4 separate regions of the Homo sapiens genome follow, and regions 2, 3 and 4 are each reported to be linked to region 1. Evidence: microRNA targets listed by miRTarBase, many of them from high-throughput screens and not tested one by one. Region 1 holds a microRNA gene; each other region holds the end of a gene's coding sequence.

Evidence for each region. Region 1 holds the annotated microRNA hsa-miR-4276 (CUCAGUGACUCAUGUGC, at 3,053-3,069, opposite strand). A microRNA usually pairs through its seed, bases 2 to 8, with sites in the 3' UTR of a target mRNA and lowers its output. Matches are read on the target gene's strand: a 7mer-m8 pairs with bases 2 to 8, a 7mer-A1 pairs with bases 2 to 7 and ends in A, and an 8mer does both.
Region 2: miRTarBase lists LSM14A as a target of hsa-miR-4276. Seed matches in the 3' UTR shown: 8mer at 1,068-1,075 and 7mer-m8 at 2,544-2,550.
Region 3: the mRNA of ISCU is a reported target of hsa-miR-4276. Seed matches in the 3' UTR shown: 7mer-A1 at 6,383-6,389.
Region 4: the mRNA of DYNLL2 is a reported target of hsa-miR-4276. Seed matches in the 3' UTR shown: 7mer-A1 at 1,464-1,470 and 8mer at 4,136-4,143.

The regions. Positions count from the first base shown.
Region 1 is chr4:174,419,752-174,426,873 of GRCh38, reverse strand. It overlaps MIR4276 (microRNA 4276), which reads right to left and starts at 3,079; the gene lies at 3,010-3,079.
Region 2 is chr19:34,226,625-34,233,746 of GRCh38, forward strand. LSM14A (LSM14A mRNA processing body assembly factor) reads left to right here. Exons shown (of 10, transcript NM_015578.4): 10 at 741-2,664. The coding sequence ends at 764. Among named protein-coding and RNA genes, the nearest start is that of GARRE1, 24 kb to the right of the region's middle.
Region 3 is chr12:108,568,275-108,575,396 of GRCh38, reverse strand. It overlaps ISCU (iron-sulfur cluster assembly enzyme), which reads right to left. Exons shown (of 5, transcript NM_213595.4): 5 at 6,029-6,566. The coding sequence ends at 6,481. Among named protein-coding and RNA genes, the nearest start is that of ISCU, 9.2 kb to the right of the region's middle. RefSeq lists an enhancer at 6,312-6,461.
Region 4 is chr17:58,088,345-58,095,466 of GRCh38, forward strand. It overlaps DYNLL2 (dynein light chain LC8-type 2), which reads left to right. Exons shown (of 3, transcript NM_080677.3): 3 at 798-7,122. The coding sequence ends at 935. Among named protein-coding and RNA genes, the nearest start is that of DYNLL2, 8.5 kb to the left of the region's middle.

The DNA.
Region 1 (7,122 bases):
CTTCATTTTTATTTTCTTATAACCCATGCTGTTAAGTTTTCACATTATACTGAAATATAGTTTCTCACGTTAGTTTACAAACAAGACGATTCCTCCTCGTTAAAGGAACTGTTAAGCCAGATGGTGAAAGTCTTTGCATCCAAGAGTCCTGAGCAGCTGAGGTATATGAATAACAGCTGCCTGAACCCAAATCTCCTCAAACAACCTCTAAGCAACAAGAATAAAACCACACAAAATTCTCACCTTTGGCAAAATTAGAAGACAGAAAAATATTACAAGTGAAAATTACCCATAGGTATAAAAATAAGCACCAAATTCCAGCATAGCTAACTTTCGAAGCTCTTCTGAAGTCATTCCCACAAAGAAAAGGGGTTCTGAAAAAATGCACAAGAAAGATAAGGGACAATTGAGTTAAAGCCAACCCCAGGAAGAGATAGCTCAAAGAGTCCTGATAATAATCCTGGTGATGGATTATTAATCATTGAGTTCTCTAAGAATCAATTAATCCATCCAAATCTAAATAAATGAACAAAAACTAAATTAGTACTGGGGGAATCTTATCCCTTTAAGTGGAATGTCAGCTAATAAATGTAGAAGGGATGGTAGACTTAGAAAATCACCATTTTGGAACTATTACAATAAAAATTGATGTAAGCAAAAATTATCAATGAGTACTTAAATGAGTAGGTCAAAGTTTGGGGAATAAAGAAGATTTAGGTATCTTCAAAGTATCTCTCCACAAATTAATTATAAATTACTAAGGGGAAAATAAAAAATTTGCAGTGGAAAAACCTAGCAGAACCATCTTAGCCAATCAATCGTAGCTAACATCACCAATCATGGGACAGACCAGCATCATGTTGCCTGCTGATGTGATGTGCTGAGAAGAGTACAGTCTCATGTCTGTTTCCCTATCTGACATGCATGACCTGGTTCTAAACAGAGGAAATATCAGACAGACCCAAACTGAGTGACATTCCACAAAATAACAGGTACTCTCCAAGCTGCCAAGGTTATAAGGGAAAAGACTGAGGATTTAATCTAGATTAAAAACACTCCAGGGACATGATGATTAAGCACAATTCTTACCACTGAGTTAAATTTTAGACCAGGAAAAAAAACACAGGACATTGTTGGGATAATGGACTAAATTTGAATATTGGCTCTGGAAGAGGTATTCCTATTATATAAATGGTATATATATTTTTTTACTCTGGTAATTTTACTAGTTATTCAAGAGAATGTGTTTTTCTTAGGAAACACACACTGTTCGAAAGGTTAAAAAATGTTTATTAAGAGAGTAAATGATAAAGCAACCAGAGCAAAAATGTTAATAATTTGTGAATCTAGGTAAAGAATAAAATGAGGATCATTTGTTCTATTCGGATAATCTCTCTGTAAAACTTGAAATTATGGTAAAATAAAACGTTTAAAAAATTCTTGTTCTACTTTATTAAAAATAGAAAATTCTGATATTTTCCTTTTAAAAAAATAATCTCTGAAGTTAGATAACTGGAAACAAAAATTTACAAAGCTTCCCCACAGATCCTTATGAAATAAGTTTATGGTAGAATTAAACATATCCAGGTAACTCAATCTTTTGCTTTTAAGCCAAATTAATTGAGCCAAAAACAATACAGAGCTCTTAAAACATTTTGTTGATTTTTGATAAATTAAGTTGTCCCAGTATTGCCAAAATGTTTACAACAATAATACAACAAAACTGGCCAGGCACAGGGACTGACACCTGTAATCCCAGAACTTTGGGAGGCCAAGGTGGGAGGATCACTTGAGCCCAGGAGTTCAAGACCAGCCTGGACAACACAGTGAGACCCTGCTGTGATTGCACCACTGCATTCCAGCCTAAGCAACAGAGTGAAACCCTGTCTCCAAAAAAAAAAAAAAGAAAATAAAAGAAAAGAAAAAAAATCATAAAACTAACACTCTTCAGTCATTATATGATTTTCATTATTGAAGTTTTATATTTGCTAAAATACCTGTTTTTATTGATCCATCTAGTATTAATAGGTGTAACTGCAACATGTCCTTTTGTTTATGAGCTTAAAAATATAGCAGAAACTACTATAAATTGAGGATTTACTTATGCTAGGTATGGTGTAAGGAAAATTTTAAAAATAGCATTCTGTTTTTTGATCTTAAAAAATCCTATAGGTATGATTAGTACTTTATCTATTTATAAATAAGGAACTGAAGATAAAGAAGGTAAAGAACTTAGACCTAACTTCACACAGTTTGTAGTTTGTAACTGGCAGAGGTGAGGTTCTAAACCTAGTCAACAAGGCTAGAAAGCTAGTAGGTTTCCTAGCACCCTATGTAGTACATATGCTTGCTAGTACTATTAGTAATTCCAATGATTTTTACTTTGGGATTTGGCAAAATCTCTCAGGATAAATAATTCAAAATCATCAATTGTTAAGTAATTTTCCTAGATGAATTCTTGGAATCAAGATGATAGTCTGCTTAACATACGATTCCATTATCTTATCATGTCGGACTACAGCCTGGCAAAGGTACACTGCTCTGTTGAAAAATAATTTTTAAATATACTGTTATTAATCTGGAAGAAACTGCAATGTAGGAGATCTAGAAATAGATAATATTAATTTATTCTGAAAAATTAAAAGGACAGACTTGAGTAACAGACAAAATTTCCAAATAAGCAGATCTTGATTTTGAAGTTCAGGTTTTTATTCTATTTTAATTAAAAATCTAATAACAAAATCAAAAAACCCAGAAACAAAATCCTTGCAAATATTTTTCGTTTTGAACTTCTTTTTTATTACTATTATAATTTTTTGTTGTTGTTTTTACATGCAGAGATAGGGTCTTGCGAGGCTGCCCAGGGTGGTCTCAAGATTCTGGGCTCAAATGATCCTCCCACCCCAGCCTCCCAAAGTACTGGGATTGCAGGCATGAGCCACCACACCCAGCCTGTTTTGAAATTCTTTAAGTTTTCATATGAGCTGTCAAAAAGGTTTCTAGCTACCCATTGCTTTCAGACACAGTAGCTCTATTTACGTGGCCACTGCCAGCACATGAGTCACTGAGTCAGACTGTGACATGCCCACAGCATATCCCATTATTTAACTCATTGACTCAAGGAACACATAAGAAAAAATACACAGTCTACAAATTAATCACTTTAGCAAAATTGGCTTTACACATATTCCAGGATACGTGCATGATTAAGCAAGCTATATTTATGTCAGCAGAGAACTATAAATAGAATATTTATTTAGAGTCATCTTATCTAAGGAGATGTCTAATTTTTGTTGAATTTACACCTCAGATGTCAGACTCAACAGAAAAACAGGCAAGACATGCAGTTTTGTTTTATCTTCCTCCACCAGCCCCAATGCCAAATGTCACATGACACACACACATATACACACACACACACACACACGCAAAAAGGTTGTATTTCTCCGGTAGTCAGAATAGCAATAGCGAATTCAATGGTTCTATGAATGTCTGGATCATGTTTTGGAAAGAAGTAACACTTCTGCAGAAATTTTGTTTCCCTGTTTCTCTTAGATTCAAAGAGCTGGCAAACTGCCAAATCGGAAATTCTGCAAACTGGAAGTGCAAATTGTGTTATTTGTATTGTAATCTTTAACATGTGTCATTTCAATGATTCCCAAATCACACTATGAATCAAAATTAAAACTAAAAATGCAGGTTTTGATAAAATAGGATTCAATGGAAATGTAAAATTACATTTTAGCACAGTGTCCTCCATTGAATATGTTTCCTTCTTTCCCTCTTCCTCTTTTCAGTTTAGTCTCACACAGGTTTTAGATTTTATCTGAGGTTTGAGAGTAAAGTGTTGCATACCTTCCAAAAAGCTTTTGCCTTATTTCCAATTATTGCAATGCAATATTAGATAAGAATCCAAATAAGTGTGATTTATGGGTATTGTTACATTTATCTGGAAAAAAATGCAAACTTAAAAGTGTTTGACAGGGCTCACCACATGAGAAACATCTAGACCCTTCTAGCTTGTCAAAGAAATGGAAGACAATTGAAAGAGTTTGTAGTAAAGCGTGGAAAGGACCAATTTAATGATTTTGTTAAAAGAAATGAAAACAATTATGTCATTATAATATTACTGCTATAATATTATATGTTATATGTTGTTATAACAGAAAAAAGTCAACATCTTTCATCATTCATTTTTGAAATTAACTTCTGTCATACAATTGAACATTTGTTTTTGCTTCCTTTTTTTTCTCCAAATATTTGGGTTTAGTTGAGGTTCTGGAAAAAACTTAGTGTTTTACTTTAGACTAAATAAGCTTAAAATTCACTCAATATCAGCATAAAAACTTTTACCGGAACATTTTGCATAGGACCATATTCCTGTTTTCCATAAATTTAATCTACTAAAATCTAAGAGCCAGATCAGAATTCTTTTTTTGGCAGGCGAGCTTAGAGAAAAATTAAAACAATCAGATTGTTTTCTTGAGTCTCTATAAGCATACCTCCTCTGCACAGTGAATTGAAAATCCTTTTGCTTCCACATCTGATAAATAATACAATTAGTAACTCTAATAATTTTTATTTTTGATGGAATGAAAATGCAGTCATCACTTTGTGAATTTTTTTTTTTTTTTTTTTTGAGACATGGTCTTGCTCTGTCCCCCAGGCTGGAGTGCAGTGGCACGATCTCAGCCCACTGCAACCTCTGCCTCCTGGGTTCAAGCGATTCTCCTGTTTCAGCCTCCTGAGTAGCTGGGGCTACAGGCAGCTCCTGTGCCACGATGCTGGCTAATTTTTGTATTTTTAGTAGAGACAGGGTTTTACCATGTTGGCCAGGCTGGTCTCAAACTCCTGACCTCCAGTGTTCCACCCACCTCAGCCTCCCAAAGTGCTGGGATTACAGGCATGAGCCACCGTGCCCTTCTGCTTTGTGAAATAATTTAAGTGAATTCACATGCATGCAACTTCTCCCATGTGTGAAGCAAGTCAAACACAAGAAACATGATCTCCACATTCTGAACAGTAAATGGAATGTGAATATGGAATGAACAAATGTAATTAAACACTTATTCACTGGAAATGGACATATAATGACAAATATAAAAAGAAAAAATATGTAAGAATAATGTACCTGTACTCAAACTTGTCCTTCAGGCAATATTGTGAGAAATTTCTCCACTAAACCCAATGAGGAAACTGAAGAAAGTAAAATATTAGCATCCAATTTTCTTATGAGTTGATTCAATAAGCATTTACTAAATTCCATACAAAGTTTAAAATAACAATTCCTGCAGTCCTAGAGCTCTCATGGTACAGGAGAGAGAAATGTACACAGAAATTTACTGGTGTGGTGAGTACCACAACTTAGATGCTGACAGAGTACAGTGGGAACACAAAAGTGGAAATATGTAATCATGCACACAGACATCACAGAATATTTCATAAAGAAGGTAAATTTTCAGTTGAGTGACATATAATTACAAGGAACTCCCTAGACGGTTGCAGGGGAAAGTAGTTGCAAAGATATGGAAGGGAAAAAGAACATATCGTATTTTAGAAGATTTCTAAATGTTTTAGCACATGTGGAATATCTGGAGTATAAACAGAGAGGGAATAACTTTGCCCATTAAAATAAGGAATTAAGAAGCCACCATTATTTTTATTGTTTTTTGTTTTTTTGCTGTCAAATTAATTTTTCATCTTTGGAAATTTGAAAATGGGGAAAACATAGAGAAGAAAATTAAACCTACTTCAAATTCTGTCAGCAAAGAATTGTGTGGCTTGACTACATGCTTTATTCCACAGCCGTGCTTCTAACAGCCTTGCAGTGATACTGATCTGAGGCCATGGGCAGCAAATGAGACTGTCCCCCAAGTCAGCTGGGACCAACGATACTTCTCCCAACTGTCACCAAAATGTTCTCCACTTATTTTCCACAATGATGCATTCTTTTCTCAGTCTTGGTGCCTTCTGGATAATTAAATTTTCCCTAGATTTGGATGATATTTCCTTGATTTTATGGTATGTGATTGTTGTTTTCTACTCTTGGCACCAGTAAAGGTAGTTCTCTTTTTTATTATTATTATTTCCTATTGTTTTTCTCCTAGCGTATGACCACTTGTTGAAAAAGGGTTTTGCTCTTAAAGGAAGCTTTGCCAGAAATCCAGAGCACATTTTCTCCTTTAGTTCAGGATTATACATGTAAGTGGCACTGCTGGGTCAAGCAAGAAGTACTATTGAAAGGGTTTGGTATAGAGGCAAGTCGCTTTCTGAAAAAATGTCAATTTTCATGCCTATGATGGCATGTGAGATGCCATTTTCTAGCATGCTTACCGACAATGGGTGTTATCTTTTATTTTTGCAAAGAGTTGAGGGATTTTGAAGAATCATGGTGATAAAATCAGCATTTAACTTTCTTGCTGTCACTCTTCCCGCAGCGTAGAGGATACGCTGAGCATACAGGGTATGGTCTGGTTTGCAGGCCAAAAGATAAGGTAGGTGGTTTGTGAAATAATGTAGATGAGAAAACATAACCAAGGAAGTGGCAGGAAGAAGAAGAGAGATGGAAAAAAATTTGAGAGACAGGAAGGAAATATAAATATAGTAACCAAGAACACGTTGCTAAAGGGGGCAATAAAAATAATTCTGAAAATCGCTGGTCTCTACAAAGCACTGTACACATATTAGTTCATATAATTCTCACAAATTTAGAAGATAGGTGTTATTATTATGATTTTTCAGATTTGTAAAATAGGTTAAAGTAGACATTTAGAAAGTTGTATTATAATGATTGTACTCACTTGTATATAGGAAGCAAGATAATACATATAGCTATGCATTGAGTGTGAACTGCTTGTGAGACATAATCATATAGTTAAGTAGATTCAGGGAAATGTGGATTTGGAATTTAAGACAGAGAGAGGAATCATAAAATTTAAAACTTGACAGTCATTAGGATATCTGGTTCCCCCAATAAATCTAAGTCTTAAAGTAAGGCAAACCTTATTTATGAGTTTTATACATCAGATATATTATATGAATATAGCATGTCTCTTTCTCTCAAATAAGTAAACTGCCTTAAAAAAAGATAGTATCTAATCTACATACTATGTGAAGAGCAAT
Region 2 (7,122 bases), not on the chromosome of region 1:
GTCTCACCTAGGAAATGTCTGTTTCTAACAGTTGGGGTGAGAATCAGCAGTAAAAACCAGGTATATGGTAGCAGCTGGTCTAGAGGAAAATAAAAGCCCTTGGCTCCAGCCCTTTGTACAGGCCTTTAGTTTAGGGTCAGTCTCTCTGGAAATCTTGAGATTTTTATTGCTTCCTCACTGGTTACTTTTTAAAAATTCCCCAGTCAGCTTTCTACTTTTCAGAGCTTATTTCAGATTTAAGAGTTATCCTTGTAAAATTGATTTTTAAACCATTGCTTCCTCCTGGCATGAAATTTTGGAGAGAAATGTTATACTGACTGGGTATTTTATTGCTTAGTAAAGACATCAAAGACTTGGGGATTTTATGAAACTTGTTTCAAAGTATGTTGACAGTTGTATTTGATGAGTTTGACTATTGAGTTGAGGGTTTAAGTCCTATCACTGCTTTTAAAAAATTATTAGGGAGAACAACCAAAGATGAGGAAGTATGCCTGTATTTTGGGGTGGGGTTCACCACTGCATTAACCTCTACTGACTGGAAGATGCAGTCAACAATGAGGTACTACTGAGTATGGAAGTTATAGAAGGAGTTTCGTGGAAATGAGTGAGACAGGTTTTTCTATGAAAGTAAAAGTGGGGGAGTATATTTAAAGATAATTTAAAATAAACTTGAGCAAAGTAAAAAGAAAATAATACACCAATAATTTGGAACATGAGCTAAATTTTTTTTTCTTTTTTAGAAAGACAACAAAGTTGCTGCATAGTCTACAAACAAGTCTCTGAAAATAGGTGAATTTCTAGCTCTTCATGGTCCTGAACATTGATTTCAGTCTTTGCAAAGAATGAAGAAGTGAATTCGCTGTACATTTGTCACCAGCACTGGGTTTTTGTTTTTTGTTTGTTTTTCCGCTTAATTTCAAAGATAAAATGCAGTTACTTTTGGGGGTGGAAGGCTCATCTTAAAACATGAGCATTAAATATATTTGGAATAGCAGAAGGTTAAGTAATTTCTTATGTATAGTTAAACTAAAGCAGTACTTCAGTGGGACTTAACAAGTATTTTTTCATCACTGAAAGGTTTTTTTTTTTTATCACTAAATTGTATTTGGCAATTGCAAGTTGCCTGCAGATAGGGCCGTGATACTGTGTTTTGAGCCACAGAAGGTTGTGTGTGTGTGTGTGTGTGTGTGTGTGTGTGTGTGTGTATGTGTGTGTCTTTTTCCTCCTTTCTTTTGGGGAATCCTGTAATATGAGGTAGCTTATTTCGTCAATTAATTAGGGTGCTGGATGGTAGAGAATTTTGTCAGTCAACTATGTACACACAGTAAATACTGTTTCTTAGGCAAAGGTAACTTTTTTATATAGTTGTAAAATTCCATTATATTCCATTGCCAAAGAAACATTAAGAACTTTGTATAGCTGTATAAAAAGCAACTAATTTTTTAAAGAATAAACATTTTAAAGTCAGCAAACATACTGTGTCCTTGCAGAAGTTGATGTGCTGAGCAGCAGCCTTATGGGTGGGTCTTTTTTTCTTAGTTTTCCAGGCTTAACATTTTTGATTTTGTTTTTTAATGTTTGGAACATAAATGAAGATTTGATACATTATTTCATTATCTAAAAAGGATTAATTATTCATGCTCATTGTAAGAACTTCATTTTGTAGCAAATGGCATATCACAGGATCTGTCCAGATAATCGATATTTTCAGTATACAAATGTAAATAATCACAGATGAGAATGTACTTAGCTGTATTTTCAAATAAGTAATCTTCCCCCCTTTTGTAGGACTTTAAAACTAGGCATCAATGAACCTGTTTTTCCTATTATGCCTGGAATTTAGTCATGATACCTTGACTCATTCCATCATATTTCAAGAGGATTCAGAGTGCTAGAAATTATTTTGGTAGCCTGTAACACACGGCAACACTGGTCCTTGGGCCTATGATGACCCACAGATGACTCAGTATAGAGTTCATTGCTAATTATAAATTACTAGTGAATCTTTTTGATATTTTAAGCTCTAGTGGGAAAAATCTGGCCACTTTTGTGTTTTTATGAAGGCCATGGAATAAAAGGATCCAAAGATTTAAATATTTTTATCTAATATTTTGATTGTTTTCTTAACTTTCTCCTTAAAACATTCAGTAGTGATAAAGATATAGAAACTGCACTGTAGGAGAATTGGAATATTTAAGGCTGGTTGACATTTTTTATTTTCATTTTATATCTTTTGTATAGCTCTACAAGGCAGTGTTTTGTAATTTGGTTTCATTATGAAGATCCAGTACTTGGCAGCCATAGTTTAGACAATATTGTTCAGTGCTGTTTGCTTGCATGTTAACAACAAAACCTTTTAGAGGACCCACAAATCATGATATTGAACACAGTTCCGAGGCATTCAGAGCATCAGAGCAAGTACCATGGCAATACATGTGTAGACTGTTGGAGATGTCCCGGGCCAATTTCAAGAAAGAAAACTGTAAATACTAGTTCTACTTGCTCTGAAATTATGAGTTTATGCGTTTTCCCAGCCCTCCGAATCACTGACTGGGGCGTTTTGTGCCCCAGCAATAACTGGCAGCATGGCATACCTGCAGTACCCCTTACAATATTAAAGCAAAGTTTTTATTCTAAAACAGAATAAAACTGTTCAATAAAAAATGCTCGTCAAAGTTCTTTCTCTTTAAATAGTAACATTCTGTTTCAGTAGGAACATAATGAAAGGAATCTTTTAAATGGAAGAGCGGAATTATAATGTTTGTATTCCCTGTAATAACTATAAATCAGTTACTTTATTTCTAAGATTGAGTTATTGTTGCAGATGTTTAGGGAAAGCTAAAAGCCCCTTCCTTCCCCTCCTGTGTGTAAATAAAATACTTCTGAGATCAGATCCGTGACATGAGGAGATTGAGCCACCCAGGCACAGGCCAGGCTGGAAACAGCAGCCAGAACACACTCCCTGTGGGCAGACGCATGAAGAAGATGCAGAATCTGTCTATTAAAACAGTTCGCTCCAAAAGCTGGGCTTCATGTGATGGTAGGGCAAGAGGTCGGGAACAGCAGTGCAGCACAGTGGCTCTCGGTGGGGTTACCTGACATCCTAGGAACACAGTCATCTGTTGCTTAATAATAGCGACATGTTCTTATTTTTAAATAGCAATGAGGTCTCACTTCGTTGCCCAGGCTGGTCTCTAACTCCTGGGCTCAAATGATCCTCCCATCTTGGCCTCCCAAAGTGCTAGATTACAGACATGAGCCACCAGGCCCGGCCATGACACATTCTGAGAAATGTGTTAAGCAATGTCATCATTGTGTGAACATCAGAGAGTGTACTACACAAATGAAGATGGTATGGCCTACTCCACACCTAAGCTATATGGTGTAGCCTGTTGCTCCTCGCTACAAACCTGTACAGCATGTTACTGTACTGAATACTGTAGGCAGTCATAACACAGTGGTATTTCTGTATTTAAAACATATCTAAACAGAAAAAGTATAGTAAAAATACGGTATCATAATCTTTGGGACCACCATTGTATACCCAGTCCATCGTTGACCAAAACATCATTAAGTGGTGCGTGAGTACTGAGGAATGTGAGGGGATGTGTTTTGGTTGTCACAATCACTGGGGATCACCACTGGTATTTAAAAGTAAGGGCCCGGATGGTAAATGTCCTGTGCTGTGCCACACAATCAGTTGTCCAACCCAAAGTGCAGTAGTGCTCCTCTACTCTGAGAAACACTGGCTAAAGTCCCTCCACATGGAAAGACAGTAAGTGGGAAATTATTTCCTGCCAACTTGAAAAAAAAAATTTACTACTTAGGAAATTGTCCGCTTGGGAATATTAATAATAAAGGGAACTTACTTCCTGTAGCACATCAGCATTGTGGAAACATTACCACATAGGAGTTAGGGCTTCATCCTGTTCTCTGTCAGTGCTTCACAAATCTCTGATCAGAATCTACCAAGGAGCATTTTTAAGTACAGATTCCCAGGCCCAGAGAGTGATTCTGAAGTTCCCTAGTACAGCAGAACCCAACCTTTTTGGCACCAGGGACTGGTTTCACCAAAGACAGTTTTTCCACAGATGAGCAGGGGGTATGGTTTTGGGGTGATTCAAGTATATTTATTGTGCACTTTATTTCTATTATTACATTGTAATATATAATGAAATAATTACACAATTCACCATCATGTAGAATCAATGGGAGGCCTGAGCTTGTTTTCCTGCAACTAGATGGTCCCATCTGGGGGTGATGGGAGACAGTGACAGATCATCGGGCATGATCAGTGAGTGCGCAACCGAGGTCCCTTGCATGCAGAGCTCACGATAGGGTTTCCAACCCTATGAGAATCTAATGCTGCTGCTGATGTGACAGGAGGTGGAGCTCGGATGGTAATGCTCACTCATCAGCCCGCCTCTCACCCGCTGTGCAGGCTGGTTCCTAACAGACCACGGACCACGACCGTTCTGCTGCCCAGGGATCAGGGACCCCTTCTCTAGTAGGTCCTAGGAATCTTACTGATCCCACAGGTAGTTGTGATTAGCTAGGTTTGGGAAGATGACTGTACAACACCAAAGCTGGTTCCTGCTTTGGGGGTGTTGATATATTTTCCACAGTAGGATTATCTTAGCATTTTTCCCATCCTTCCAAACCCAGTATATCCAGATTGTGACTGGGGCATGAAGAGAGGGATGGGACTAAGTGGAAAGGAGGGAACAGTTTTGCAGGATGGAATCAGGGGAAATGGGGAGGTTGAGACTCGAGTTTCCTCCAGAGTTTGGGTGCTTTGAGTACTGAGTTTTATTTCGTTTTTATTCCTGGCATAGGGTTTGTGTTCCTTCTGTCTCTTAATTTTGCATGCCAGTTGTCCCTGCCTCTGTGGGTTCTCTGCCCATCAGAGAAGCCGCTCCTTCTGCAGGGCCCCTCTGTCCACAGCATGGCTGAGAAGCAACTTCTTTTCCTGAGAAGGGTTACTTAGGCCATCCAATCACATCTGGATTCAGTGTGTTGCAGGATCCCCCTGCCCTGTTAGTTCAGAGATTAAGCTGTTTTACATAGTAAAGGTGGGGAGAGTGTCATGGTATAAAGTAATCCAGGTGAATGGTCTCTTCCTGTAGGAGTGCAGGTGTCACCAATTTGCTTTAGTTTACCTGTCCCGACTGGTTTTGGGGTTTTTTTGAGACGGAGTCTCACTCTATCACCCAAGCTGGAGTGCAGTGGCGCGATCTTAGCTCACTGCAACCTCTGCCTCCCAGGTTCAAGTGATTCTCTCCCCTCAGCCCCCCGAGTAGCTGGGATTGCAGGCGTGTGCCCCCACACCCAGCTAATTTTTGTATTTTTAGTAGAGATGGGATTTCACCATGTTGGCCAGGCTGGTCTCGAACTCCTCACCTCAGGTGATCCACCTGCCTCGGCCTCCTGAAGTGCTGGGATTGCAGGTGTGAGCCACTGTGCCTGGCCTGTTCTGACTCTGTTTAAAAGATAACAAGTATTAGGCTGGGTGCGGTGACTCACGCCTGTAATCCCAGCACTTTGGGAGGCTGAGGCGGGTGGATCACGAGGTCAAGAGATCGAGACCATCCTGACCAACATGGTGAAACCCCGTCTCTACTAAAAATACAAAAAATTAGCCTGGTGTGGTGGCGGGCACCTGTAATCCCAGCTACTTGGGAGGCTGAGGCAGGAGAATTGCTTGAACCTGGGAGGCGGAGGTTGCAGTGAGCTGAGATTGTGCCACTGCACTCCAGCCTGGGCAAAAAGAGCGAAGCTCCATCTCAAAAAAAAAAAAAAAAAAACCACGTATTATTAGTAAAATTGAAATCAAACTTAGGGAAGTATCATAGTACCATTAATCTGTCAATCTGAAGATGCTAAAAGGAGATTTGCTTAGCAGGCTGCCTTGGCTTCTCCAAGATGGGGAGACAGACAACTTCTTGGAAGCAGTGTCCTCCAAACAGAAATTGGTCAAGGAAGGGAAGTGGGAGAGAGAGCTTTGACTAGCAGAGGCTTGGAAGCCAGCCAGCCAGCAGCCAACAGTGCATGTGTGCATTGGGAAGCTAGTGGTCCAGGGACCAGGCACTGCTCCTGTGGGATCCATCCCAGCCCTCTAAGGAGCGGTGCAAAGGTTCTTATCCTATTTATCGGAGCCAGTGTCCAGAAAAGGAAGCTTGTGGTTTGAGACATTCTGTAAATCCGGTTCCAAGAGCACGAGGTAGGACTCTGAATCCGATGTGGTTTCTGTTCTCGGTGATGGTGCAGAGCTGTGAGCCAGTGGTAGGGTGTCCTTTAAATTCCAGCTCAGTACACTAGTTAATGAACTTGGCTGACTGATAAAAATGTTTTCAGGTTTAGCTCATGAACATATCAACATAGACCTAAATATAATTCCAGTTTGTCATGAATGTTGATTTTTTGAGGAAATGCTTTAAAATGTACTGATGCCCATGTTGTGGTTGTAAGGAAACAAAGCAGCTCTGTGAGGCCAAAGCATATTTCAGTTCAATAGTGAGGCTTTCTTAGAAAGAATGACTCATAGTCACTCAGAGTTGAGTCGCACAGAAACAACCGAGAGCAGACAGCAAGGAACGGCAGGGCCCAGAAGGTCCAGCCTTTCCCTCCAGGCTGAAGGGTTAGGGAAGATCGCCAACCTTAAAGGGGGTGTGAGAGGCCTGGGCCCAGGTGAGATTGTACTGAATTCCAGTAAACAGTGTACAGTCATTCCAGGACAGAGGACAGGAACATGTTTACTAGGTGTCTGGAGTGCACCTCTATAATCCTCATACACACTAATCCAGATAATCCTGGGATGCTGGCCTCACGCAGGATTGTTGATGAGAATGCAAATCCCAACATTGCAATTCAGGATTTTGCTTCTACTGAAAGCATTTTGTCAATGTTCTCTTTTGGGGTTAGCTGGGTGACAGTTCTCCCTTGCTGGATTCCCAGTACTTAATAGCGTTTCTTTGACTCAGTGGATATGTGGAACATTGCAGACTGCAATTTATAACACAGAACTGGGTATATATTTTCATTATAAAAGTAATACATGTAAAAAGAATGCAGGCCTCTTCTCTGATTGGGTGGTATTTTTAAAAAGAAACAAAGAATGCAGGC
Region 3 (7,122 bases), not on the chromosome of region 1:
TTCGAGACCAGCTTGGGTAACATAGCGAGACCCCCATCTCTATTAAAATTAAACAACACATTTTGGCTGGGCCCGGTGCCTCATGCCTGTAATCCCAACTCTTTGGGAGGTGGAGGCGGGCAGATCACTTGAGGTCAGGAGTTTGAGACCAGCCTGGCCAACATGGTGAAAACCCATCTCTACTAAAAATACAAAAATTAGACAGGTGTGGTGGCACACACCTGTAATCCCAGCTACTCAGGAGGCTGAGGCACAAGGATTGCTTGAACCTGGGAGGCGGAGGTTGCAGTGAGCCAAGATCGCACCACTGCACTCCAGCCTTGGCGACAGAGAGAGAATCCACACGACAGGTGTGGTGGAAATAGCAAGAGAACTAGAATTAGAACTAGAGTCTGTAGATGAGGAGTTGTTTCTTATGGATAAACAAAGAAAATGGTTCTTGAAATGGAATCTACTCCCAGTGAAGATGCTGTGAACATTGTCGAAAGAACAATAAATGATTTAGAACATTACATAAGTATAATTGGTGGGCCTGGCATGGTGGCTCATGCCTGTAATCCCAGAACTTTAGGAGGCTGAGGCAGGTGGATCACTTGAGGACAGGACTTTGAGACCAGCTGGTCAACACGGGGAAACCCCATTTCTACTAAAAATACAAAAATTAGCTGGGCATGGTGGTGCACGCCTGTAATCCCAGCTACTTGCGAGGCTGAGGCACAAGAACCACTTGAACCCAGGAGGCGGAGGTTGCAGGGAGCTGAGGTTGTGCCACTGCACTCCAGCCTGGGCAACAGAGCAAGACTCTGACTCAAAATAAGGAAGGGAAGGAAAGAAAGGAAGGAAGGAAGGGAAAGGAAAGAAAGAAAAAGAAAGAAAGAGAAAGAAAGAAAGGAGAGAGAGAGAGAAGGAAGGAAGGAAGGGAAAGGAAAGAAAGAAAAAGAAAGAAAGAAAAAGAAAGGGGAGAGAGAGAGAGAAGAAAGGAAGGAAGGAAGGAAGGAAGGAAATAAATTTGGTGAAGCAGTGGCAGAGTTTGAGAAAATAGGTTCCAATTTTGAAAGAAGTTCTACCATGGGTAAAATGCTATCAACTAACACCACAGGCTGTAGAGAAATCTTTTGTGAAAGGAAAAGGCAATCAAAGTGATGAACTTCAGCGTTGTCTTATTTTAAGAAATTATGGCTGGGTGCAGTGGCTCGTGCCTGTAATCCCAGCACTTTGGGAGGCCGAGGAGGGCGGATCACCTGAGTTCAGCAGTTCAAGACCAGCCTGGCCAATATGGCGAAACACCATCTCTATTAAAAATAAAAAAAATTTGCCAGGCATGGTGGCACATGCCTATAATCCCAGCTACTCGGGCAGGAGAATTGCTTGAACCTGGGAGGCAGAGTTTGCAGTGAGCCAAGATCGATCGCAGCCCTGCACTCCAGCTTGGGCGACAGAGCGAGATTCCATCTCAAAAAAAAAAAAAAAAAAAAAAAAAAAAAAGACATTGCCACAACCACCTCAACCTTCTGCAACTCCCAGCCTGATCAGTCAGCAGCTGTCAAAATTGAGGCAAGACCCTCCACCAGCAAAAAGATAATGACTTACCGAAGCCTCCAATGACTGTTAGCATTTTTTTTTAGCAACAAACTATGTTTATATTAAGGTATGCACATTGGGTTTTTTTTTTTTAGATATAATGCTATTGCACACTTAACAGACTCCAGTTTAGTGTAAACATAAGTTTTATATGCACTGGGAAAATTTGTGTGACTCGTTTTATTGCAACATTTACTTTATTGCAGTGACCTGGAGCCGAACCTGCAACATCTCTGAGGTGTGCCTGTAATAATACCAATGCAAATAGTAATAGTGAAAATAGCAGTAGAGAAAGTACAGTCATAGCATGCAGGGGCTTGGGCTCTAGATCAAACAGCTCTGAGCTAGAATCTTGATCTTACCATTTGCTGACACATCATTTTACCTTTTAGTTTCTCTATCTGTAAAATGGGATATTGATAGTACTTTAGGATTTTTGTGAGGCAAATGAGCTGATCTATATAAAACACCCAGCAACAGTGCCTAGTATGTAGTCAGGGCTGAAGTGTTACCTGTAATAATGAGAACCACCATAACAGCAATGAACTATTTTTTTTTCCTTTTTCTTTCTTTCTTCTTCTCCTTCCTCTTTTTTTTTTTTTTTTTTTTAAGAGACAGGGTCTCACTCTCTCACCCAGGTTAGAGGACAGTGGTGCCATCACAGCTCACTGCATCCTTGAACTCCTGGGCTCAAGGGATCCTCCCACCTCAGTATCCCAAGTAGCAGAGACTACAGGTGCATGATACTGTAGTGTGCACGACAGGTGCACGACACCACAGCCAGCTAGTTTTTTTATTTTTTGTAGAGATGGGGTCTTGCCATCTTGCCCAAGTATTGACAATTGTTGCAAGATCTCAGTTCTTGCCTTCTTAGTTTAAAAGAATATAGACAAGAGACACACAGCAAAGGGGAGGTGCAGCATAGAGTAATTTATTGCAGAGGAAAAAGAACATTTTGAAAGTTAGGTACAGAAAGGACAGGACACCCTGAGAGAGACAGGATTTAGGGCAGGCTGCTCTTAAGGACAGCATTGATTATTGCTGGGAGACTCCCTTTGTGGGGGTTTTACATCATTATTCATAAGGGGTTGAGAGAGGTGTTACTAGTAAGCATGTTCTGGGTGGTCCTTTCGGTGCCCACGCACAGTAGCTGTACGTGCTTGTTCATACATTGCATGTCTCATTCGCATCTTAAATCTCCACCTAGGGGTGTGTTTTTTACTCTTTTAATGAGCAAAGGGTCAGTTTGAGGACAGCTAAATCAAAGTGCGCACACTCTCTAGAGGGGAAAGTCCCTACTGAAGATAGCTTTGCTTGAGCTTTGCTCAATTACAATGTGAATGCTGAGGCTTATTGTGTTGACTGTACAGTCATCACGGATGCTGCATCTCGAGGACATGGTCACTTCCTTGACTACCTCTCCTGCCTCACAGGCTGGTCTCTAACTGCTGGGCTCAAGCAATCCTCCTGCCTTGGCCTCCTAAAGTGCTGGGGTTATAGGCATGGGCCACTGTACCTGGCCAACAGTGAACTCTGTGTGCCATGTGCTTTCCATGTATTATCTCATTTAATCGTCAGGTCTACCTGATCAGGTAGGTACTATTATCTTTCCCATTTTGCAGATGAATAAACTGAGGCTTGGGGAGGTTGAGCCTTTCGCTCAGGGTCACACAGCGGTAGCCAGCATTTGATTCAACACTCCAAGCTCACTCCACTCTGCCCTGCTGCTTGCTCCCTGGGTGGAGATGATCTTCTCTGGGGAGGTGGCCTTTTGAGGGGCTGGCTGATGTCATCTCGGGGGGTGGGGAAAGCAAGCAGACAGGCCTCCAAGAGCCATTGGCAGGGGATGTGCTCCACGTCCATCTTTGGTTGGGGCTGGAACTCATCTGTAGGGGCCCTCTAACACCACCAAAACTTGGTGGGACCTAGAAGTCTTCTCTTCTGTCGTGAAGATAGACACAAGGTCTGCACTCTTGCCTCAAGTTCAAAGGGCCTGAAGTATCGAGAAGTGTGCCTCATTTGTTTGTCTTTTTAAGAAAATTCATCCTAGGGCCAAGTAGTTTTTACAAGACAATGCTTAATGTGAGGTTCTAGAACTGTGCATTTGGATGTGGTCCCGGGTGGCCCTGGTCCAGGAATCACACTTAGGAAAGGTTACATCCGAGATGTGGTCATAGCTGTAGTGTGGCACTCAGGAGAGGGTGGGAGGTGGGCAGAAGACCTCAGCCAGAGCTCAATTCTACCACTTCCTAGCTGTGTGCCTTGAGGCAAGTCATTTCACCTCTCGGAGCCTCTGCTTCCCCATCCATCCATCTGCCCATAAACCCACCCAGCCCATCAGGTGATGCCAGTGCCCAGGCCCCACCTCCAGAGCATTGGATTTAACTTGGCATCAGGATTTAATTAGGCTCCTGGTGGGAGCCAGGGTTGGCGTGAGGGCCATGGTGCTTGGCAGCCAGTTGGCCAAGAGAATGCATCAGGCTCAACCTGTGTTGGTTCAGCTTCTTCATTGAATGTTCAAGGCACAGGTGAGCCTCTGATGTGCAGTTTGAATCCCTGGTGTGTTCTGCCAGGAGGGGTGAGGCAGAAGAATGGGCTTTGGGTCACTCAGATCAAGCCAGTTGGCCTGAGGGTCAGTTGGCTTCTTGAGCCAGTGTCCTTGTTTGAATCAATGCCCACTGCAGGCAGCTGTCATGAGAATTAACAGGATTACAGATGTAAGGGCCTGGAACAGAGCACAGGTGCTTGACAGACCATTTTAACTTATCTGTGGAGGTTTTCCATGGACAGGTTTATTTAGAGATGCTAAGACCTATTTGGAGGCTGCAAAAACCCCTAGACTTGAGTTCACTGAAGGGCACATGATGCCCTCATGTGGCTCAAACTAGATTTGTTTGGGGAAAGAGTGTCTTTAATGTGAATTTAAAAAATATCCATTTGTTTTAGCAGTACAACCACGTTTAGAGACTTGGGCTCTTCTGGGAATATTGCTTTGTTTATAAGCTCCTCCTGATGTTCAACTCTGAGGATGTTCACTGGGACAGAAATGTCTCATTTAAATTAAAAAAATCACAAAGAAAAGTGGTGGGGAATTGTGGTGGTGCCACATGTAATAAAGAAGGGAGAGACAAGCTCAGTCTAGAGGGACTGTGAATTAAATTGCAGAACATGCCACACAGGACAATTTTACATGGTTCTACCCAGGGTTCTAATTTGAGATTCCTATAAAGGCCCTGGTCTGTGGCTGCCTTCACAGACTACAGAAGGAACAGTCTTTGAAGTTCTGTGCCCTCCACCAGAACCCAGAGCATTAAAACAAAAAAACAAAAAACAACAAAAAAAACAAGGGAGGTATATTTAAGAGGCAGCCAGCCTATACCTGAACAAAAAAACCACCACCAGAAAAAACAAACACATCTTACTTTTGAAGCTGAACATTTGAGACTATGGCAGTCAATATTTCAATAACCCATTTTCACTAGAAGATAGGGCATCCTTTATTGAGATTTGCATGACTATGGGTAGCTAAAAATAGGGAGACATCAGGGTAGGAGGGCCCGTGCTTAGACTTATGCCCAAGCCAGGGATGAATGTTTGTTTGTTTGGCTTTGAGACGGAGTCTTGCTCTGTCTCCCAGGCTGGAGTGCACTGGTGTGATCTTGGCTCACTGCTACCTCCACTTCCCAGGTCAAGTGATTCTCCTGCCTCAGCCTCCCGAGCAGCTGGGATTACAGGTGCGTGCCGCCATGCCTGGCTAATTTTTGTAATTTTAGTAGAGATGGGGTTTCACTACCTTGGCCAGGCTGGTCTTGAACTCTTGACCTCGTGATCCACCCGCCTTGGCCTCCCAAAGTGCTGGGATTACAGGTGTGAGCCACTGCGCCCGGCTGGATGAATGTTTTTTAAACAACCTTAGGTGTACTATGCAGGTACAGATAGTTCAGAATGAACCACTTAAGATACTACATCTATGCAGAACACAGCATTCAGAAGTTTCTTCCCTAAAGTTTGGCTCATCTACGACCACAAAAAACCCAAGAGGTTCTTAAAAGTCAGGGGCTCTGGAATTACCTGCCCAGACAGAAGTCAGAAACTTGGGCCTAGAAATCCGCATTTTAAACTCATTCCCGAGGTGCTCTTCATGTATCTGGTCTACCGCTTTAGGGTGCCAAGCTAATGCTTTTTAGATTTGAGCAACCAGTGAAATTACAGAAAGAATCTTCAAGACTTACTTTGAGCTTTCAACTACTATCACACAAAGAACAATGACAAGCGATAATCATCTCCTTTCATCCTTGTTCCAAAAAATATTACGTATATTTGTCTTTGTTTGCTTGGAGAGCTGTGTATGTCACTGCGGTCCAACCTCTGGGAACCCCAAGGGGCTTTGGGCACCACTTCAGGGTGAATGATGGGCCCAAGAGACAAGGCTTACTAGAGAACACCATCATCTTCCATTATTTTATTATTTTTTATACATATATATATATGCGCAATCTGTTTTATGTACAACAATTGGTTCTATCAAATATTCAGACCAAGGCATTCTACTGGTAATTTCCCCCCAAATCAATTCAGGTAAAATTAGATACTTATGCACTTCACGGGCTATCAAAACTTGCAACTTCATTATCAATTTCAGTTCTGAGGTCATACACACAATTCAAAATATACATTAACTAGGTTAAGGCGATAAAAGTGGGCTGAAAGAAACCACAGGATTCAGAACAATGAAACTGTGTATTTTGCTTGCATGAGAGTCATAACGTGAACAGCAAGTATTGTGCGTATCTCATAGCTCTTCAGTGGAGAGGAAGCGGCTTCTGAACATCTAAGGTGACTGCACAGCAGGTGGGAAACAGCTGGTGTGGCCTGCTGGAGGCTTCGCCGAGGGAGGGCTCATTTCTTCTCTGCCTCTCCTTTTTTGGGTTCTTGTTTCAATTTGTAATCAGCCAGGGCGGCCTTGATTGCATCTTCAGCCAGCACTGGAAGTAACGGAAGGAAAGAAGCCTAAGTTTCTAGATGTGAAAGAAATGGACTTGGGAATAGAATCTTTAAGAGCTGGGAGGAAGTGGTGCTGGTGGGGACTAATGGAGTAACCAAGCCAGAAAGCTGGGGTGAGGAGTTGCTGGGCACGTCAGCAGCTGCTTCCTGAGCTGAGTTACTCCTGCGGGTGATCCTGGAGACAGACTAGGGTTAAAAATCTGTGATCCCAGGCTAGTTCCTTAGCCTCTTTGACCCTACTTTCTCTTCTATAGAACTGGGATAATCATGCTTTTCTTGCCAGGATAGTGTGGGGACTTACAGAAGATGTCTGACACATAGTAGGGACACAGGAAATGTTACTTCTTGCCTGCTCCCATCAAAGTCTAGCTTTGGACAAAATCTTGTCATGATAAAAAAGTTGACATGCCCTTTGGAAAAAAGATCATGTCAATCTGTTGATGGGATGGCATTTGCCACATCACCCTCTAGTGATCGAGAGTTTGACCACTTTTATTTAGGAGTCAATATTCAAAGTGAGGCTATGGGGAAAATAAA
Region 4 (7,122 bases), not on the chromosome of region 1:
AGAAGTTGTATGTTGAGCATATTGAGGGATAGAACCCCAGAGTTGGCAGCGTTGGTGGGCCCATGGTGGAGGGCTGCTGCCCTTTCATGGCCATGGCAGGATGCTTCTAGAACTGAGTCTGCAGGCTGAGCCACAAGGTAGTAGGGAGCTGATTAGCTCTAAAGATTTCCTGTGGTTTTGATGCTGAACTTGTGCCCCTTAGGGAATTGCCTTGATCTCATGGTGGAGGTCCTTGTTCTGGTACATACAGCCCACACAGTGCATGGCACACGGGAATGCCTTTAATGTTGTCTTATATAGTAGTGCCTCCTGGTACTCCCGATGTTTGGTCTTGTTTTGCTCTAATGCCTTGGTGTTTAGCATTTGGAAATGCTGGTTAATTATGTGTGAGGCAGCGGGTGGTGGCTCCCCATTTGTGTCATGTGTTTGACAAATGGTCCTTTATTCCACTGGCCTCTTGATTCCCTTGCTGAAGAATCCCAGGGTGGGCTAGGGGTGGCGTGAGGGGGTGGGGTAGCTAGAGGGAGGAGAGATGATCAGGGTGTAGAGTGCTGGAGGCTCAGGGGAGACGAATAATGGAGGCTTTGTGGTGTTCCATTATTAATGAGGGGAAGAGTGTCCTGGCCAGCTTTAAAACCTGAGCTTTTGAGGTTCGGGGAGCTGAGGCTGAGGGATGGGGTGGGGGTGATAACAACCAAACGTGTCGGTGCTGGAGTTGCAGGGAGAGACTCCCATTCTGATTTCTCCTTCTCCAGCTACCCTAATTACCTTTCTTCTCTACCTTTGTTCTTTTTTAGGAATTTGACAAGAAATATAACCCTACCTGGCATTGTATCGTGGGCCGAAATTTTGGCAGCTACGTCACACACGAGACAAAGCACTTCATCTATTTTTACTTGGGTCAAGTTGCAATCCTCCTCTTCAAGTCAGGCTAGGTGGCCATGGTGAAGGTGTCAGTGGCGGCGGCAGCGATGGCAAGCAGGCGGCGTTGCTGGGACTGTTTTGCACTGGAGCCAGCATCAGGATGTCCTCTCCAATGGCTGTGCTACTGCATGGACTGTATACTCGATTTCATGTGTATGTCGCAGTAAACAAAACCAAACCTCTTTCTGTTTAGTTGCCTGGGGGAAGAAGGCTGCTTTATGTTTATTTTTCAAGACTTTAAAAATATTTTTTGGTTGTATTGCACTAGGAAATCTCTCCCACCTCTCCCTTTTCTCTTTCTTTCCCTATACAAAATAAAAGGCCCACCATAGAGACTAGGCGGCCGAAAGACTAGGAGGGCTGAGGAAAAGAAATAGGTCTCTGGAGGTGGAACTAAAACTGTGCAGCTGCCTCTTCCTGGCGGTGGATGCTGCTTTGGGAGGGCCAGGGAGGCTGCAGGGGGACAGTGTTGGGATTGTCAAGGAAAAAGGGGTAGGAAGGAAGGTGGAGGGATTGATCTAGTACCAGGGAGAATATTCCACTGAACTGTGATTCTATGGCTTGGGGCGGAGGGTGGGGTGGGGATGCCTTCTTTAGGGGCCCTGAGATGTGTTTGTCTGTGGTGTGTGGGAGTGGGGAGCAGATTTGTCTTGCTGTCTTTGTCAGAATTTCTAAGTAAGGGCTGTGTCTTTGTGGATTACCTTCTTTTGTTCTTCCTGCCAGAGATCATGACAGGAGGATGCTGGGGTAGGATTAGCTTGAATCTTTTTTTTCTTTACATTTTTCTCCTGTCTGCTCCCTGCTTAGCCCTCAGTTTCCTCATTCCTCTGGAGTTCTCTTAGAGCAGCCCCTGTTGTTAGTTGGCTGGCAAGGGAATTTCTGGTGACTGTAGTTCCTTAGTTAGGTCTTAGCAATCAAACCAAATTGATGTCTCCCTTGACTCTTCTGTGTATATGTGTGAATATGTGTGTATATGTGTGTGTATGTGTGTGTGGGGTTTGGGGTAGAAGGGAGGGAGGGGGCAGGACAGTGTGGAATCTCTAGGGTGTATGGGTAGGTAGGGGGCACAGTTAGTTCTAAGTGGGCTTTTATGCTAAAAGCCTCTGGGGATATCTGTTTTGAAAATAAAGATAGGTGTCCCCTCCTTGCTGTCATCTAGCCCAGACACTCTGCTTGCTCTCTGGCTGTCTGCTCCCTGGGAAGGCTTTAGGAGGACCACCCAGGACAGGATGACCATGCTGCCATCTGCTCTGGAGCTGGGTCTCAGTGCAGAGGGACAGTGACTGTGGATGGTTGCAGTCTCTGGTGGGAGGTGAGGATAGAAGTGATAAAGAGCTAAGAGGAGCTTCTGGGAGCCTTGGAGGAGGTCAGTCTTGCAGTGGTGAAGCCAGGACATAGGAGATGGAGCAGGGCTGTGAGAGGAGGAGATTCTGAGGAGGATGCAGGGGAAATCTTGTCTGTTAATGAAATAGGAGTGGGGTGGGGTTTGGGGTGGGGTGGTCATTGCCGTTTGAGCTGCTGATTTTCATGAGTCGCCTTCAAAACTCTCGTGTAGGGTTGACAATGTGGGGGGGTGGGGGATCCAGCTTATTCTTTTATTTTCAAGTCCATTCTTGGGGCTGGTGGGGAGGCAGGAGAATACCCCTCCCTAAGCCCTTAGTGTGTGCCGAGCTTGCTTTGTGATGTTGGCAGGGGAGGGGAGACCTGGGTGGTGACTGAGTTCCCTTTATCAAACCCTTCAGTGGGCACAAAATTGAGTGCTTGATTTTAGGTTTTATTTTTTTATGAATGTCCAAATCTGTGTTTCCCCCTGCCCTCCCAGACTGTGTGGCCAGTTGAAAGTGTCTGGTTTGTGTTCATCTCTCCCTCATTTCTGGAGCAGGGCCTGAGACCCTGCCACATCTCCTATGCTCTGCATCCACGCCTCTTTTGGACATTAAAGGTTGATTGATGCACCTCTGCACTGTTTGGGTCTCTTTGGGGATGAGGGGTTGGCATGGTGGCAGTGGTGCCACACAGTGGGTGAGGGTGGAGAGTCTCCAGGGTGGAATAGAATGGGGACTGAAGGGAAGACCAGCCACTAGATACTGATTGGCCTGTAGCAGCACTTATTTGTGCCTAGGCTTATGCCCCTTAAGTAGAGGAAAACTAACCAGCAGCACTCACCCTTAAGGGCTCCTGGGTTCTGCCTTCCTTGGTGGTGATGGCCAGGTGAATCATATTTTGTGTCTTTGGGATAGTAACTGCTACCTTCCCAGCTGCCGTCATGGACCTGCCTGAGCTTTGCTGCTTCAACTTTTGCCCAAAGCTCTTATCTTTCATACTCCTCCCTTCTCGGCTTTCCTGAACCTGGAGACTATTTAGCAAAGGGTCTGGCCACTCAGAAATGGAAAGCTGGGGATATTTAGAAAGATGGCACCTCTTTTGGTGGAACCTAAGTGATTCTCTGAATCCTCTGTTGCCCAGACACACAACTCGAGAAATCAGCAGTGCCAAGACTTCTGAGAGTGTCTGCCCACCCCTGACTCCACCATCGTGTGACTGCAATTCTCTTGGAGGTGTTAGGGAGCCAGAGGTGCTTTGCCCTCTTTGTGTTACTATTTCTTTACTCAAAAATATTTAAGAGTTCTTGTATGCTTGGGCCTAGGATGCTGTTCACAGAGGAGAATGAGACAAGTAAGTTCTAGGCTTCTATGACATACACATTCTTATGTGTAGAGCAGACATACACACACTGATCAACTTTTTCCAATAGTGATAAATGTGTTATCAAGGAAATGAACTGGGCAATGAGCTATTGAGTGTTGGAGGTAGGTAGATAGGGTTCCTCCAGTTAGGAAGGTGGTTGGCTGATCTTGGGGAGAAGTTCTACCTCTGGGGCAGTGAGGTCCTAAGGGATTAAGTTGAGAGACTCTAGAGCCCCAACTTCTGTTACTGCTTTAGCTGTCGTGAGTAATTTGACAGAGCTGGAGCTTTGGGAGGGAGAGTGAGGCCACAGTTCACATTTCATCAGGGATGAGTGTCTCCAGGGCCAAAGCTCATCTACTTTCTTCCCTGATGAAAGAGGCAGTCCAGGTGGCATCTGTGAACAACACATTCCTGCACAGGTAGGTGCACAGTGCTCATCTGGAAGACTAATCCTGCAGGGCTTCCTGGAGGAGATGAGCCTCCACTTTTCGGGGCCCAGGATGGGAAAGTATGTGAGCATGTGTCACTGAAGGGACTGTGGAAAGCAGATGGAAATTGTGGAATTCTCTCGGAACAATGCAGCCATTATTAGAACTGTGCCCATAGGAGCATCAATATCCCTGCTCCTTGTATCCTGTTCTCCAGTCTTCTGGGGACCCCCTTTGACTGAACCCAACCAAATGGCAGATGACAAGGCAGACCCAGGATGCAGTCTGTAGGGTTCAGTCCCCCTCCCCACTGGGAACAGCAGGAAAGGGCAAGGTGGTGACAATCTAAGGGAGGCAAATGGATAATAACCAGCATGGTAGGGAATCTTCTTTGTTGCTGTGGCACTGTCGATCTCTGTTCCCTGAACTCTAGTGTCCTCCAGACTAGATTTAAGGTGTGGTTCCCCGCTAAATTATTCTCTCACCTCCTTTCAGTCTTTGCTCAAACATCCTTTTATCAGAGAGGCTTTCTGACATCCTGTGCAAGATAGCACCTCTCCCCCATCGCTGTTATCCTTACCCAGTTTAATTCCACGTAGCATCTGCCAACGCTTGACATATTTGTTTTTTGTTTACTTTCTGGCCTGTGACAACTAGAATATAAGCTCTGTGAGAGCATTTTTCTCTTAACTGCTTATCTTCAAGTAAACAGAACAGTGCCTGTCCTGTAGGAAGTGTTTGATACATACAGATTGCTCAAATGAAAAAAGAAGGGTGCGAGCAAGCCTGGACAGGCCTGGTGCCCCAGGGCAGCCTTGCCTTTTCTGAAGAGAATGGCTGCCTTAGGCACGGCTCTCCTTGCTGCCCAAGCCTTGCCACCTTGAAAGGCGTGAGAGGGTCACTCCCAGGTGTATTCAAGCAAGAGTGCCTGAGCCACTCTTGCTTGGCAGTATGGGAGGATGAAATAGTGTGTTCATAAAGTGCATTTTATTTTTAAAGCATTTCAGTTTATGTTGCTGAAACCTGAGAGCGCCCCCCTGAGCTAGACTCAGTAATCATTAGACACATTTTTGGATAAGCAAACTGAATCAGAGAAGGTGAGTGGCAAAGCCCATGTAGCTGGTGGCATTACTAGAACTTAGCACTGTGATGCACAAAGGCTTAACTGGGTTTGGCAGCAAGGGTCTCATGGATACTCTTTAAGATGTAGGCCCAGATCTCTTAGTAGTGAATCCCTGATGTTCCCTCTCTTGGGGCTCTGGTTTAGCAAGGACAGCGAGGATACTTTCCTCTCTCCCTCCTCCTTACTCCTCTCTACTAAGGATTAAGGAGCCACCTCTTCCTCCTTAAGGCCTTTGGGAGAGATGGGTCTCCTGGTATTAGAAAGGAGAGCAGACGCCTAGAGTTCTGACCTCTTGGGCCTCCCCTAAACAAAAAGCATAGCCCCTTCACTACCCTAGTAACAAGTATGACCTGTTGCCTGTTGAGGTCAGGTGTACCTGTGTGTCTCTCTCTGTGATGTATGTGGGCTTGGTGTCCACATCAATGTGCGTGAATACTCCTACCCACAGACTGCTACTGTGCCAATATAGAGGTTCATAAGAAAGATAAAAGAGAACCAGCAGAACCCCAGGTTCTGCCTCTCCTTCCTCCCTTTGCCCAGATAAAGGTGTACAGTGTTTGTGGTGAGGCTGCTGGACACTGCTGTTTTGGGCTTTCTAGAGAGAATGCAAACATGCAAAAACAGTGTGGTAGTGTAGGCAGAACAAGATCTAGAATCAGAAGACCTGGAGTCGAATCTCAGCTCCAACACCCACTGGATGAACGTGGACAAGCTGCTTGATCTCTCAGATCCTCGATTTCTTCATCTGTAAGATGGAAACAATATGTGTCTTTTCTAAGGGGAAAGATCAAATGACATCATGTATGTGAAAATGCTTAGAAATGGGTGATGATGATGATGATGATACTGATTATTAGGGTATCTAATAAAGTTGGGGAAAGAACAAAATCCCCCCCTCACACCCTATTGCACCACCAGCCTTCTCCCTCCCTGCTCAATTATACCCATGTTATAGGGAAGGAAATAGGGAAGAAACTTGTCTAAGGTCACATGGATGTTCGCAACAATTGGGATGCAGAACTTGATCTGACTCCCAGGCCAGGTTTGATTTTGATTTGCAGTGGCAGAGAGGACTAATTTTTTACTAGGTTCTGAGCCCTGTACTGAACTCTGGATTGCCCTGTACTTGGTGGTGGTATACAGTTCAGCAGTTTTTAGCATATACACGAATTTGTGCAGCCATAACCACTATCTAATTCTAGAACATTTTTATCACCCCCAAAAGAAATCATGTACCCATTTGCAGTCACTTGCCATTCCCTCTTCTCCCCAGCCCTGGGAAACCACTGACCTACCTTATATCTCTATGAATTTGCCTAATCTGGACATTTCATATAAATGCAATTGTACATGTGGCCTTTTGTTTCTGGCTTCTTTCACTTAGCATGTTTTCAAGGTTCATTTGTGCTGTAGCATTTATCAGTACTTTGTTCCTTTTTCTAGCTGAGTAACGTGTGGGTATATCACATTTTGTTTATTCATCTGTTGAGGGATGTTTGGGTTGTTTCTACTTTTTGACTATTGTGATTAGTGCTGCTATGAACATTGATGTACAGATTTTTGTGTAGATATGTTTTCAATTATCTTGGGGCATCTTTTATTTTTAATGTCAGTTTTCTATTTTTAAAAAATCTAGACAGGTTGGCAAATCATTTCTGTAAAGAGTCAGTAAATATTTTAGCCTTTGTGGTCCATGACATTAGGTATACAGATTACAATTTCTGAACTCTGCCATTCCAGTGTGAGAGCAGCCATAGATAATATGTAAACAAATGAGCATGGCTATGTTCCAATAAAACTTTTAAAAAGCAGGGGACAGATTGGGCCTGTGGACCATAGTATACCAACCCTTAATCTAAATGACACATTCACATGATACATTATTCTAAAGGCACAAAAAGCAAAAATTCTCCCTCCCACCTCTGTCTTCCAGCTACGGGGTTACCTTCCTTGAAGCAG